Homo sapiens: one gene and its partners. The protein of the gene in region 2 interacts with the protein of the main gene of each other region in a biochemical or structural test. Each region holds a gene or a part of one and is shown on either strand. Other genes may lie near its edges.

Region 1 (3,500 bases), on a different chromosome or scaffold from region 2:
ACTTGGTAGAAGTCAAAAACTAGGGGGAAAATTAGTGACATTAGCTTCATAAATGAACTGAACAAATAAACTAAAACTTTTTAAATGAAAGAGTATTAAATGTACTTGGAGGTATCAACACATAGAAGGGGGCTGTGGATATTTTTGCTTATTCTGAAGTTTGAAATTGTCTTTCAGTGATGGGAATGCCATTGGTGTGGACATTCTGGCTCCTGATCTCCGAGGTTTTTCAGAATGCAGGACAAGGATGTGTTCTTGCCTTTCACTTCCCCTTGGCCACAACATGCAGTAGTAACCTCTTTAATTAAGAGCGTTTTTGTTTGCTTGTTTTCCCCTGCATGGAACATCAGAAACTTTTGGTTTATCAAGGCAAGCTTTTCATGCAGCATTTAGCCTTTTTGTCCCAGAGCATCTGAAAACTGAATATTGTATATGTAGTTGGATGACTATTTCATCAAGACAAGAAACCACCAATACATTTACCTGAAATTTAAAAGCGTAGCATATATATATATGCTTGATTTTTGTTCTTCCTGATCCCCTGCACCTGATAGTCTCTTTATGGTAATATTTTCACATTCTTTTTTGTTGTTGTTGTTGTTTTTGAGATGGAGTCTCGCTCTGCGCCCAGGCTGGAGTGCAGTGGCATGATCTCGGCTCACTGCAAGCTCCGCCTCCTGGGTTCACGCCATTCTCTTGCCTCAGCCTCCCGAGTAGCAGAGACTACAGGTGCCCACCACCATGCCTGGCTAATTTTTGTATTTTTAGTAGAGATGGGGTTTCACTGTGTTAGCCAGGATGGTCTCAATCTCCTGACCTCATGATCCGCCTGCCTCAGCCTCCCAAAGTGTTGGGATTACAGGTGTGAGCCACCGTGCCCGACCTGCCTGCCTGCCTTTTTCTCTTTTATTTTTTCTTTTTTTCTCTTCTTTCTTTCTTTCCTTTTCTTTTTTTTTTTTTTTTTTTTTTTTTTTGGTGGAGTCACCTAGGCTGGAGTGCAGTGGCACAATCTTGGCTCACTGCAACCTCCACCTCCCAGGTTCAAGTGATTCTCCTGCCTCAGCCTCCCAAGTAGCTGGGATTGCAGGTGCCTGGCACCATGCCCAGCTAATTTTTGTATTTTTAGTAGAGATAGGGTTTCACCATGTTGACCAAGCTGGTCTCGAACTCTTGACCTCAGGTGAGCTATCCGCCTTGGCCTCCCAAAGTGCTTGGGATTAGAGGCGTGAGCCACCATGCCTGGCCCACATTCTGCTTTTCTTATGTAAGCTCTGAACTGCTAAGTCGTAGTTTATTCAACAAATGACATAGGAATGTCTATTCATGATGAGTCTTGGTATAAAAGAGGATAGAATTAGTGAATACATTGTTCAATAATAAATCTCATCAACATTTTCTGATCAAAATGAAGTTTGTTAGTTTTCCTCTCAGTAGAAATGCATGGGCTAAAATACAGAAATAGTGATGACTGATGATGGTGATAATTCACATCCATAAAATCTAGGGCTACAATAATTTGGCGGATTGAAAGGTCATTTTGGCAGGCCTACAGTTTTCTGTCAAGGATCCAGGAATACTTTATAAGGAATTGTGAATGCCTGTCAGTCTTTTCTCCTATTGCAAGAAGGCTGACCAGTTTACACTTTATTAGTTTACTGTTTTGGACTTTTTATAAGTTATTAGTCTAAATAAGTATTTTAGCTGGCTCTGAGTATGAATAACTCACTTTTTTCCTTTCCCTAGTGAAGAACAGTCCAGACTGGCAGCAAGAAAATATGCTAGAGTTGTACAGAAGTTGGGTTTTCCAGCTAAGTTCTTGGACTTCAAGATTCAGAATATGGTGGGGAGCTGTGATGTGAAGTTTCCTATAAGGTTAGAAGGCCTTGTGCTCACCCACCAACAATTTAGTAGGTAAGTCTGAAATGTATTATGATTGTTATTGGCAACAGTTCATTTATAATCTAAACATTGTTCAGAATAAAACACATGCAAAATATTCAGTATATGAGAACAGTTGACATGGTTATAGTTGTATGTATTCTTGCATTGTCTTCCTGATGTTCTCAGTCATATTTATCACCCTCACCAGCCTCTGCTTCCCTTATCACTTTGCGGTACCCATAACTCCCCTTTACTGGAATGAATTTGATTCTACTTCTGTATGTTTTATCGTTTTATTGCTGAATACACTTGGAATGCATGAATTGACCCTAACCTTGTATCAATTTTTTTTCCCAGTTTGGATCTTCTCTTTTAGTCAACATTGTGTCAGATCTACCAGCAAAGTGTGAAGTTGAGCGATAGGAACAACTTTCTAATTATCTTCCCTGCTACTTGCAGGTGAAGACTCACAGGCAGGCAGCCCTGCCCACCTCACTGCTTCATCTCATGGTCTTCTGGTGTCTGTTCACAGGCACATTAGTTCTGTGTGCCCCTGGGGCTCACTTGGTTCCTCCTGCCCTAGGCCTTTGCACTTGCCACTTTTATGCCTAGTATGCTCATTTCCCTTTTCACCTAGGAAGCTCCCACTTGAGTTCCATATGTCTACCCATTCCACTCTTCCTCAGAGAAGCCTGTCCTGAATTTTGTCTTAGGTCAGACACACAGAAACAGAGGCATCCTGTTTTCAGTCTCTCCGAACTGAGAAAAATGAGATTACTAGGCTTAGAAGAATATGTACCAGGCCTGGCCTGGTGGCTCACACCTGTAATCCCAGCATTTTGGGAGGCCGAGGCAGGCAGATCAGTTGAGTTCAGGAGTTCAAGACCAGCCTGGCCAACATGGTGAAACCTCGTCTTTACTAAAAATACAAAAATTAGCTGGACATGGTGGTGCATGCCTGTAATCCCAGTTACATGGGAGGCTGAGGCAGGACAATCATTCGAACCCAGGAGATGGAGGTTGCAGTGAGCCAAGATCGTGCCACTGTACTCCAGCCTGGGCGACACAGCAAGACTCCGTCTCAAAAAAAAAAAGAATATATACCAATAGTCCATTCAGTCAGACAGCTTAATCAGGTATAGGTTAATTCTCAGGCTAGTATATAAGTTTGATTAAATTTCCTGACCACAATTGTCAGCTAGAGAATATTTCAATTTAAGGAGGTAAGATATGATTAAAAGTTAAACTGTCAGTATTGGATCTTAGAAGTAAATGATTATTAGGACTGTAATAGTAATTATTAGGACTGTAAAAGTAAAGGATTATTATCTGCATTAGATATCATTATATCTAATGATATAGAGACTGCAGACATAACTACAGGGCTCTTTTTCTTAAATCAGAAAATCCAGATTCAATAGAAATAGGGTAAAGTGATAGGAGGACAAATAGCCTTCCATCCAGTGGTTATCAACTGACGACTACAAGTCGGCCTCACTTGCTTTAATTATTCTATTCTATCCTTTGATGCTGCTTGAAGAACTGTGTTTTACCTCTTGACTAGTTTGTTTATTCAGTATTTTTCCTTGTACAGGTCCTCATTTTATCTAAAAGCACAC
Region 2 (4,627 bases):
ATAGTGCAATTGATGTAAATTAAGGGATTAACAGCCCATTAGTTGGTGTTGCTATAACTGCGTTGGAATTTTCCAGAAGTCAGGTTGCCTAGAGGAACTCATTGCAGGAATTAGAAACAAATGCAAGCTGAAATTCTGGCAGGCCCTCAAGGCCTGTTTGCCTCTTTGAACTTGATGTTAGCATTCATCATCTGACTTTAATAAGGCCACAGAGTGTCTCGTTCAGTTTCATGTATTATAACAACATCCAGGTTTCTGTGAAGATAGCAAAATGTGTATGTGAGAAAATAATAAGACGAACAAGTAGATGCTGCAATTATATTAGGGCTGTTTCCACATACAGAGCGGTATGGGGAATCAATCTATTTCAAACACTGACTTTTAAAAATTACATAATTTGTATAATTCAAAAAGTACATGCATTCATTAAGCATAAAGAAAATCAAAATGATCAATAACTTTACTCTTCAGAGAAAACTACTCTTTGAATTTTGGAGTGGGTGAGCCCGATTGTCTATCCATTTATTCATTCTCTTGACCAAAATCATCATTTTACAAATGGTGGGTGTCTTCCTCTGGACCTTCTCTGATATGCTTCCCTCTCTGAGCATATGGATTTTGGAAATTAAACATTTCTCCAGTTTGCAGAGAAGAGAAATGATAGTATACTGTACTATCATCTGACCTGCTTGTTCCCGACACACTTCTTTTAATTCATCCCAAGTTTGCTGCCATGGCATAGTACCATGAGAGCTCATGAGGCGTTTTGTTAGGAGAAAGGTTTACCTCCTCAGTGCTGCCATTCCGAACAGTTCGAGGGTAGCAACAGTTTTCTAGTTATAAGTCAGTCTGGGCTTTTGGGTCTGTTAGGAAGTCATGGTTAATTCTCAGGATGGAGGTCGTTATATTTACTAACACTTCTGATCACTTTAACTTGGGGTCATTACAGATCTGCTTCTTCAAAGAATCTTTAATCCCATCAGTGAAAGGTTCCCAAGGTCCCTGAACCATACTTTACTGAGAGCTCCTCCCACTGCTCTCTGTCCCAAAGCTTGAGATATGGGCTCTGGGGGTCATAGGGTTCCCAAATAAATCCAGATTTGCAGGGAGAGGGGATGTGTTTTGATGAAGGTCCTCATGCTATAGGTTCTTCAAAGATGCTAGCAGAGGTTAGAGACAAAAATCCTATTAATTTATGGATAGTGGCAACCATCTAGCTGGACAGTTGTCAGAACCTAAAGTGCTTTAGAGGCTTGATACATAGGCAGCTTTCTTCTAGCTGTGGCCAGTGGAAGGACTAGCTCGAGGCCCAATCTTAGATTTATCATATGGAATTCCAGTACTTCACGTGAAGGCATCTTTAATGATCAGACTTGTTGGCAGAGTTCCTCGGGAGGAGGGAGCCTGGGGCTGTGGCTGTGTGATGTGTTCCTCAGTAACCACAGGTTTGCCTCTCTCCTCACAGCCCCCAGTCCCCAGCCAGACCTCCTCATACTCCTGCATGCTGCCCACCAGCCCTTCGGTGAATGGGCGGAGTTATGATACCTACACCCCCCCACATATGCAGACACACATGAACAGTCAGCCAATGGGCACCTCGGGCACCACTTCAACAGGTGAGCCACTGCTTTCTGCAGGCTGCACAGAGGCGATCTCTCTTCACTAGAAGTTTACCCAAACAGAATCTCCTGGTCTTATGGGAGGGCGTGTTTAACTCCTTGCTTTCCTTGTCCCTGGGGGATGGGGATTGAAAAGGGAAATTCAGTTAAGCTAATTAGTAACTTTACACCATATAGACAAAAACTAAAATTGTTTTTCCTGAATTTGGTCACAAAAGTTGTGTATGAAGACAAGGCCTGAGACTGCAAGTTTTCTGAGGACAGATTATTAGACGAAGCTCAGTAGGGGGCCCACTGAGCTGTAGGTGCGTGCTTGTTGAAATGCTTCTTGCCCTCATAGCTCCTCTAGACCTTTTGCTGGAAATAAAAAGTGACACATTGGTTTTCCAGAGACAGCTTTATTGTAAAAGTTCCAAACATGCAAACAAACAGAGGATTTTTTTTTTCTTTTCCTTTGGATTGGGGTGGGGGGTACTTGGGATCCAATAGGTATATATACATATATTGTCTAGTTTCTGAAGGTGCTACTTTTATTTGTAACAATTGAAGTGATTTTAATACAGTAAAAAATGTTAGAAAGTATTAGTTTTTTTTTTTTTTTTTTTTTTTGTAAACCTATAAATTTGTATTCCATGTCTGTTTCTCAAAGGGAATATCTACATGGCTATTTCTTTCATCCACTTCTAGGACTCATTTCCCCTGGTGTGTCAGTTCCAGTTCAAGTTCCCGGAAGTGAACCTGATATGTCTCAATACTGGCCAAGATTACAGTAAAAAAAAAAAAAAAAAAAAAAAGGAAAGGAAATATTGTGTTAATTCAGTCAGTGACTATGGGGACACAACAGTTGAGCTTTCAGGAAAGAAAGAAAAATGGCTGTTAGAGCCGCTTCAGTTCTACAATTGTGTCCTGTATTGTACCACTGGGGAAGGAATGGACTTGAAACAAGGACCTTTGTATACAGAAGGCACGATATCAGTTGGAACAAATCTTCATTTTGGTATCCAAACTTTTATTCATTTTGGTGTATTATTTGTAAATGGGCATTTGTATGTTATAATGAAAAAAAGAACAATGTAGACTGGATGGATGTTTGATCTGTGTTGGTCATGAAGTTGTTTTTTTTTTTTTTAAAAAGAAAACCATGATCAACAAGCTTTGCCACGAATTTAAGAGTTTTATCAAGATATATCGAATACTTCTACCCATCTGTTCATAGTTTATGGACTGATGTTCCAAGTTTGTATCATTCCTTTGCATATAATTAAACCTGGAACAACATGCACTAGATTTATGTCAGAAATATCTGTTGGTTTTCCAAAGGTTGTTAACAGATGAAGTTTATGTGCAAAAAAGGGTAAGATATAAATTCAAGGAAGAAAAAAAGTTGATAGCTAAAAGGTAGAGTGTGTCTTCGATATAATCCAATTTGTTTTATGTCAAAATGTAAGTATTTGTCTTCCCTAGAAATCCTCAGAATGATTTCTATAATAAAGTTAATTTCATTTATATTTGACAAGAATATAGATGTTTTATACACATTTTCATGCAATCATACGTTTCTTTTTTGGCCAGCAAAAGTTAATTGTTCTTAGATATAGTTGTATTACTGTTCACGGTCCAATCATTTTGTGCATCTAGAGTTCATTCCTAATCAATTAAAAGTGCTTGCAAGAGTTTTAAACTTAAGTGTTTTGAAGTTGTTCACAACTACATATCAAAATTAACCATTGTTGATTGTAAAAAACCATGCCAAAGCCTTTGTATTTCCTTTATTATACAGTTTTCTTTTTAACCTTATAGTGTGGTGTTACAAATTTTATTTCCATGTTAGATCAACATTCTAAACCAATGGTTACTTTCACACACACTCTGTTTTACATCCTGATGATCCTTAAAAAATAATCCTTATAGATACCATAAATCAAAAACGTGTTAGAAAAAAATTCCACTTACAGCAGGGTGTAGATCTGTGCCCATTTATACCCACAACATATATACAAAATGGTAACATTTCCCAGTTAGCCATTTAATTCTAAAGCTCAAAGTCTAGAAATAATTTAAAAATGCAACAAGCGATTAGCTAGGAATTGTTTTTTGAATTAGGACTGGCATTTTCAATCTGGGCAGATTTCCATTGTCAGCCTATTTCAACAATGATTTCACTGAAGTATATTCAAAAGTAGATTTCTTAAAGGAGACTTTCTGAAAGCTGTTGCCTTTTTCAAATAGGCCCTCTCCCTTTTCTGTCTCCCTCCCCTTTGCACAAGAGGCATCATTTCCCATTGAACCACTACAGCTGTTCCCATTTGAATCTTGCTTTCTGTGCGGTTGTGGATGGTTGGAGGGTGGAGGGGGGATGTTGCATGTCAAGGAATAATGAGCACAGACACATCAACAGACAACAACAAAGCAGACTGTGACTGGCCGGTGGGAATTAAAGGCCTTCAGTCATTGGCAGCTTAAGCCAAACATTCCCAAATCTATGAAGCAGGGCCCATTGTTGGTCAGTTGTTATTTGCAATGAAGCACAGTTCTGATCATGTTTAAAGTGGAGGCACGCAGGGCAGGAGTGCTTGAGCCCAAGCAAAGGATGGAAAAAAATAAGCCTTTGTTGGGTAAAAAAGGACTGTCTGAGACTTTCATTTGTTCTGTGCAACATATAAGTCAATACAGATAAGTCTTCCTCTGCAAACTTCACTAAAAAGCCTGGGGGTTCTGGCAGTCTAGATTAAAATGCTTGCACATGCAGAAACCTCTGGGGACAAAGACACACTTCCACTGAATTATACTCTGCTTTAAAAAAATCCCCAAAAGCAAATGATCAGAAATGTAGAAATTAATGGAAGGATTTAAACATGACCTTCTCGTTCAATATCTACTGTTTTTTAGTTAAGGAATTACTTGTGAACAGATAATTGAGATTCATTGCTCCGGCATGAAATATACTAATAATTTTATTCCACCAGAGTTGCTGCACATTTGGAGACACCTTCCTAAGTTGCAGTTTT
Region 3 (4,032 bases), on a different chromosome or scaffold from region 2:
ACCAGACACCTTGGCAATAGGCCAGGTATGGCTAGGGGGTTTCCTTCCATTTGGGGGTTTGCACCTGACTGGCTAAGAAATCCTGGATGGAATCTTCCCAGCCTGGTTTTCCAATCTCTGCTTAAAGCAATGGACCTAGTCCTTATCTCCCCATAGGGTGCCTTCAATTCAAGGAACCTACCATGAACTGACCATATGCTAGGCGCAGTGAAGAAGGGAGCCTCAAGGTCGATAAGATAGTTCCCAGCCCCAAGAAGGTCACAGAAGAGTTAGCTGAGGTGGTGGAGTGCAGGGGAAAGCAGCTTACCTTTTAATTTCCTCTCACCCGCTTCCTCCTTCCTCTCCCTCCACATCAACAATCCCTTCCTCTTCATTCTGTTTGCTCAATGAACTCTGAAGTATAGCAGGGCCCTTGCCTTGTCTGATTTACTGCGGAACCCCTGGCTACCAGGTCGGAGCTAGTAGCTCAATACATATTAGTCGAATGAATTGGGTGGAAGAATCAAGTCCTCCCATGAAAGTTGGGCATGCTTCATGCTTACTCTAGGAAGAGGTTTGGATGTCCATGGTTGTTCTCCAAAAGTAATCATCACTGTTCCTCTTTCCCACCAGGGACCCCTCTTTCTGACCCATTTATCATTCATTCATTGGGCCAATATGTGTTGAGTAGCTCTTCCGAACTAGGCATTATACCTTGTGCTGGGGAAGCAAACTTTCCCTACCCCTACATCACCCTCTGCACACCTTGGCCTGATCTTTTCCCAGCTTACCACCACACACACTGCCCCAGCACTTACCTCTCCCTTGTTCAACCGTTTACACAGAGGTGCCATATTCAGGCCGCCCTGATGCTGCCAACCTGCATAGGAGTTGAGGGAAGGAGGTCTCCCAGTCTCTCACCTCTGCCCTTAGCCCATCCTTCCACCTGACCTCAGGGACCTGTCCCTGCCAGAATCTGCCCAGAGCCCCAAGCCACTCTGCCTCCCGGAACAGCCCTGAACCTGAACCTGGTTGTCTCACTTCGGCCCCTGGGGTCCCTGCCCATGGGCATCCTGCAGAGCCCACCCGGTGCTCCACCCCCAGCACCCTGGCCATTCGACATTGCCTGCGGCGGGAGCTGCCAGCTTTTTGGAATTCCTAATCGCTCCTGGCCCCGGTGATTGGCTGCTCAGCTCTGACCCCACTTGGGCTGCCGCCTGGTTGGATAAAAGGGGAATCTCCTTGGGCTCCAGAGCATTAGACACCGGAGGGGGCACCTGGGACCAACTTCGCGAAGCGGGAAGCCCGGCGGGGGGGTGGGGGGAGCTAAAGACCTGCGGCCTCAGCCCCTCCAAAGAACAGGGAGATGACGGGGAAAGCAGGGGAAGCGCTGAGCAAGCCCAAATCCGAGACAGTGGCCAAGAGTACCTCGGGGGGCGCCCCGGCCAGGTGCACTGGGTTCGGCATCCAGGAGATCCTGGGCTTGAACAAGGAGCCCCCGAGCTCCCACCCGCGGGCAGCGCTCGACGGCCTGGCCCCCGGGCACTTGCTGGCGGCGCGCTCAGTGCTCAGCCCCGCGGGGGTGGGCGGCATGGGGCTTCTGGGGCCCGGGGGGCTCCCTGGCTTCTACACGCAGCCCACCTTCCTGGAAGTGCTGTCCGACCCGCAGAGCGTCCACTTGCAGCCATTGGGCAGAGCATCGGGGCCGCTGGACACCAGCCAGACGGCCAGCTCGGGTAGGTGAGGAGAGGTTGCGCTGCTGCCTGACTGGGGGGCGACAGCCGGGAGCCCCGCGCCGTCGGCTCTCGCTTGCTGGACCAGGCCTCCAGGCGGAAAAGTTCCTGCCAGGCCGGGGGTCGCCGCCTGGGCCTTGGGCCGACGCGCCTGGTGATGGGGCCCGGGAGGATGCTTCGGCGTCCGCAGGGTTTCGGCCCCAAGCGTTTCGGGCGGCCGCGCAGTTCTCCAGTCCCCGCGTCGGGCAGGGCTCGGCCACGGCACTCTGTTGGAGCCCCACTGAAAACTGGGTTTGGGGTGTCGGAGCCCGTGGTGCAGAGTCGCCGGCCGTGTCGGAGGGCCCCAGCACCGCTGCTCCACTGCGGCCCCGGCCTGGTGTAGGATCCGCACTCCTCGAGCCCGATGCTGTTCCGGCTCCGGCCCCATCCCTGGTGTCCAAAGTTGTCTGATTCCCAAATCCCGCGCTGGTCAACTGGGGTTTATTTTTCACCCCCACGAGCTCAGACAACCCGGCCATCGCGGCAGCTAAAGCGGCCGCCATCCTCTCCCACGTAAGCGCCACTATATACTGGAGCCCGGGGACGCGCGGGCTCGGGGACCCTGGGTGACCTCTCCGCCTTCTCCCCGCGCTGCTTTCCGGGAGGTGTGTCGCGGCCCGCTCGAACCTCCGATTCCTGTTTGAGCTTGGCAATTCCCCCGATTTTTCGTTGCGTTTTACTTTGTTTTACGTGGAAAGGCAACGAAAACCAGCGCGTCGCAGGCTCTCGGGCCTCGAGTAGGGACGCATTGTGCCGCCTTGCGAAAAGGACGGTGCTCGGCAGCCCCCAGTCTTCCCGGAGCCCAGCTCCCCACGCCTCCGCTCCGCTCCTCGCTCCTCGAGGCCAACTTTCCGGCCCGGGGCATTGGGGCTGGCCGCGCAGGGCAGGGCGCAGCAGGGTCGCGAGCGCTGCCGGGGATCTCTGCGGCCCCCTAAGGCTGCCTCGCTCTCCGTCGTCCCGGTCCCAAGCGCGCCGGGGCCTTTGCCTCTCTTACAACGAAATCTGTTCAAAACCTCCGGATTCGGGCCCCGGCGCGGGAGAGGTCAGCCTGAGCTCAGGGATGGGACGGCCACCGGGGCGCCCGCAGGCTTCCTGGGGAGACAGAGCAGGTCCCCGCCGCTCGCGGAGGCAGCCCGGGGTGGGGCCCTCGCGGGTTTCGGGCACAGCGGAGCGCGTCCCCCACTCTGCCGCATGTCCCTACGCCCGCTTTTCAGATTCTGAAGATGTTTCCTCCAGCGATCGAAAAATGTCCAAATCTGCTTTAAACCAGACCAAGAAACGGAAGAAGCGGCGACACAGGTGAGGCCCCCGCTTTCTGTTACCTCTCCTGCCCGCGCACCCCGCTGCCGTCCCCCGTTCCGGGATCGGGTCTCTCGGACCCTATTTTCGCCGACAACGGATCTGAGGTCCGAGGCCGTGCCAGGGCGCAGACCACGGGTTGTTTGGCGGAATCTGCCCGGGGGCCTTGGCGTCGGCACCGGTTGAGCAGGATGAGTGGCCGCCGGGAAAGCGGCCCGGTTCGGGCTTTCTCCTCCTTGTTCAGGAGAAAGGAAAGGCTCCAACACAGGCCAAACTGAGCCACAGAGTGGGGGCGGTCCCCAGATCCCCGCACCAGTACATTCTGAGAGCCACACAGACCCGGCGGCGGGCAGATTAGCTCCCACCTCCTGCCAGAGCCGGTTCTTTGCCCTCGGCCTCAACCGCCGCCCCCATTTCTCTCCCGGGGTCCCTGTCCTCTCTGCCAACTCCCTAAGCTTTCTGCTCCCACCGTTCTCCAAAGCTGGAGCGATCTCTGCACTGACAGAGCATTTTCTTTTGGCTTCTGCTCATTCGTGATTCTGACCGAGTCGCTTCCCTTCTGTGAGCCTCAGTTTCCTCGTCTGCAAAATGGAGTGGTAGGCGATGTAGACTGGACGGTCCCACCAGCCGTAGCTGGAGTAGGGTGGACTGCATCGGGGTACAGACTAGAAAGGGTTTTGTTTTGTTTTGTTTTGTTTTGTTTTTGTCTTTAAATGGAAATTACTTGCACAAAGTTAAAACTCAGTAGATGCCGACAGGTATATCTTGAAAAGTAACCTACCCTTCTCCCACCCCCGCCCTCATTCCCTTCCGCACCAGCCGCACTGCTACCAGTTCCTTGGGTACATTTGTAAGGTGGTTTTCAAGGAAATAAAGGAGAAAGAACCAAAAATCTGCCTGCCTTTCTGCGGGTGCTGCTCGCAGGTGCTGCCCCGGCGCTCACCTCGGAGCTATTTCCCCGCACCCCACTCCGTCCCCATCA
Region 4 (2,286 bases), on a different chromosome or scaffold from region 2:
GGCCGTTTCTTCAGCTATATGGAGTCCAGAATTGCTCAAGTACCAAGGGAACATGAGGGGATGGCCTGAGGAGGAGTGGGGAGTAGGCGGAAGGCCCCTTGGAGGGAGCTGGGGCAGGCCCGTCCTTCACTTTGCCGTCTCTTTCTGTTGGGCTTCTCCCAGTTCATGGTTTTTGTATGTTTTGTTTCTTTATCTTGCTTCCTGCTGCTCATGTGCCCCCACGCTGTCTCCCTGCAGGCTCTCAGTCCCACATAACTATATGAGGTTGAGTTGCTGTTTGTATAATTTTTTCTTAAGTTCCATCTTTATTATATTTTAGGGCCCAGGGATCATCCTGATATTGTTGATTCATTTATGCAACTCCTGGCACAGGTGTGTTTTAGTTTTATTCATTCACGTTCTGTTCTCTCTCTTTCTCTTTCTCTTATGTTGAAATTCAATTTAAGCCTATTTTTAGCTTTCTGTTGACAAATTTTTTTTCTGTTCAGTTGAATAGAGTTTCTTCATCTGTTTCCGTGGAAGTTGACAACCCAACATCCTCCTTTAGTGCCCCTATGCCTCACTAGCTCAGTCTTCTACAAAGACCAGGGAGAGGCTGATCCCAAACGGAGGGAGCTGGGCTGGCATCGGGTGGGGAATGGGAAAGGGAGGGGGTGGTGACTGCGCCCAGCAGCTTCTTGTTGCCCAAGAAGTTCACGTGTAGGGCTGGAGTTGAAGGGTCTGGGGTACACTGTCCCCGTGCTCCTGCCGGGAACTGCCTGCCTCAGTGCCCCCAGCCTGCTCCTGAGAGGTAGGCTGGGAGCAGCTCCAAAGCGAGGGGCTGAAGAGGAATGTGCGCGGTGGAGCCCAGAGTTGGGCTGTTGGAGAGGTTGAGCTGCTGCTAGGAGGTGGAGTGCAGGCTCCATGCTAGGATGTGTTTGCATTTTGTATGTGTTTCAGTGTGTGAGACCTTATTTTGTATGTTTTGAGTTTGGTTTGGGAAGGGAACAGAAATCACCTGTAAGTAGTATGTGAATTGTGTTGGGTGCTGAGATGAATGTGTGCCTTGATGTGTGCTGTATGTTGATGTGTTGTGTGTTTTGTGTTGTTTGTTGATGTGTTAGGCCTTGATGGATTTAGAGCGTGGACGTGTGTTGGAGGTGTGTGTGTTGGGTTGTCGGAGTGTATATTATGGAGGATAGGAGTGTATGTTGTGGCATTGGTATGTCTGTATCAGAGTATGGTTTGGAGATGCATGTTGGGCTGTGGGGGTATGAAGTTAGTGTGATGGGGGCTTCTGTGTGTTAGGGGATCCTAGCACGCAGACCCCCTAACCTGTGAATTGGGGTAAATGGAGTGTTTCTTTGCTTAATCATTCCACAGATATTTATTGAGTGTGTGATACATGCTGTACTTTGCTAGGTACTGAGGATATGATAGCGAGCAAAACCAGGCACAGTTCTTGCTCTCCTGGAACTTACAAGTCTAGTTTCTGGGGGATGGGTAGGGTGGGAGGAGGGAAGAATAGGGAGTGTTCTGGGCCTGGATGGATATGTGTGTGGGTGTTTTCAAAGGTGTATCTTTGATGCGGAGGGTGTCTGAATGTGTATTTGTGGATGGGTATGTTGGAAGAGTGCACAGGGGGACTGTGGGAAGGCTGAGGGTGTAGGTGTGTGGACATGGTTTGGGGATGTGCAGGTGTTTGGTGTATGACTGTGTAATGAGGGTGTGTTCCAGATGGGGAGAGTGTGTGTATGTTAGCGGTGTTAGAGAAGTGTGTAAGGAGGGCATTTCAAGTGATGGTGCATGTGGGGGTGTTTGCACATGAGTAAACATGGGGGGTAGAGGGGATGTGAGGGGCTGGAGGGTAGAGGTCTATGTGGTATGCACTGGGGGCATTGCTGGGGAGCAGCAGTGTTTGAGGATGACTGGAGCTGTGCAGAGCATCTCCTGTGACCTGAGGATGTGCCAGTCATGTCCTGGTACCACTCGGGGCAGGCCATCTGCCCCCTTCACTTCATCTCTTCCCCCTCACCCACAGCAGCACTGGCTCCTTGGTGTGTGTATGGCCGAAGAGGGCCTGGACACAGGGTACCCTGGGTGAAAGATGGGGCTGAGGCTCCAAGGCTCCTGCTGTACTTTTCTTCTTTTTGAGCAGGAGCTGGAGGGTGCCTCAGGAATACAGGAGGGACATGGGAGGAGGGCTGTTGGGCTGAGGGCTCCCTGTCTGGCTGCCATCTCTTCTTCCTGCTACCCTGTTCACAAACTGGGGGTGCTTAACTCCCTCTGTGAATCAACATGAAGTCA

Evidence for each region. Proteins that work in one complex are often made in the same cells at the same time.
Region 1: the proteins of PAX6 (region 2) and TBP form a complex in vitro, tested with the Homo sapiens proteins (one study listed by BioGRID).
Region 3: the proteins of PAX6 (region 2) and VSX2 form a complex in vitro, tested with the Homo sapiens proteins (one study listed by BioGRID).
Region 4: the proteins of PAX6 (region 2) and IPO13 form a complex in vitro, tested with the Homo sapiens proteins (one study listed by BioGRID).

The regions. Positions count from the first base shown.
Region 1 is NC_000006.12:170,567,869-170,571,368, forward strand, and holds part of TBP (TATA-box-binding protein), read left to right. Parts: intron 1-1,743; coding exon 1,744-1,911; intron 1,912-3,500. UniProt on the Homo sapiens protein: The TFIID basal transcription factor complex plays a major role in the initiation of RNA polymerase II (Pol II)-dependent transcription.
Region 2 is NC_000011.10:31,787,699-31,792,325, reverse strand, and holds the end of PAX6 (paired box protein Pax-6), read left to right. Parts: intron 1-1,465; coding exon 1,466-1,616; intron 1,617-2,001; exon of another isoform or gene 2,002-2,306; coding exon 2,307-2,392; coding exon of another isoform or gene 2,393-2,696; 3' UTR 2,697-3,300; downstream 3,301-4,627. UniProt on the Homo sapiens protein: Transcription factor with important functions in the development of the eye, nose, central nervous system and pancreas. Required for the differentiation of pancreatic islet alpha cells.
Region 3 is NC_000014.9:74,238,217-74,242,248, forward strand, and holds the start of VSX2 (visual system homeobox 2), read left to right. Parts: upstream 1-1,232; 5' UTR 1,233-1,345; coding exon 1,346-1,715; intron 1,716-2,965; coding exon 2,966-3,050; intron 3,051-4,032.
Region 4 is NC_000001.11:43,963,950-43,966,235, forward strand, and holds part of IPO13 (importin-13), read left to right. Parts: intron 1-319; coding exon 320-372; intron 373-2,286. UniProt on the Homo sapiens protein: Functions in nuclear protein import as nuclear transport receptor. Serves as receptor for nuclear localization signals (NLS) in cargo substrates.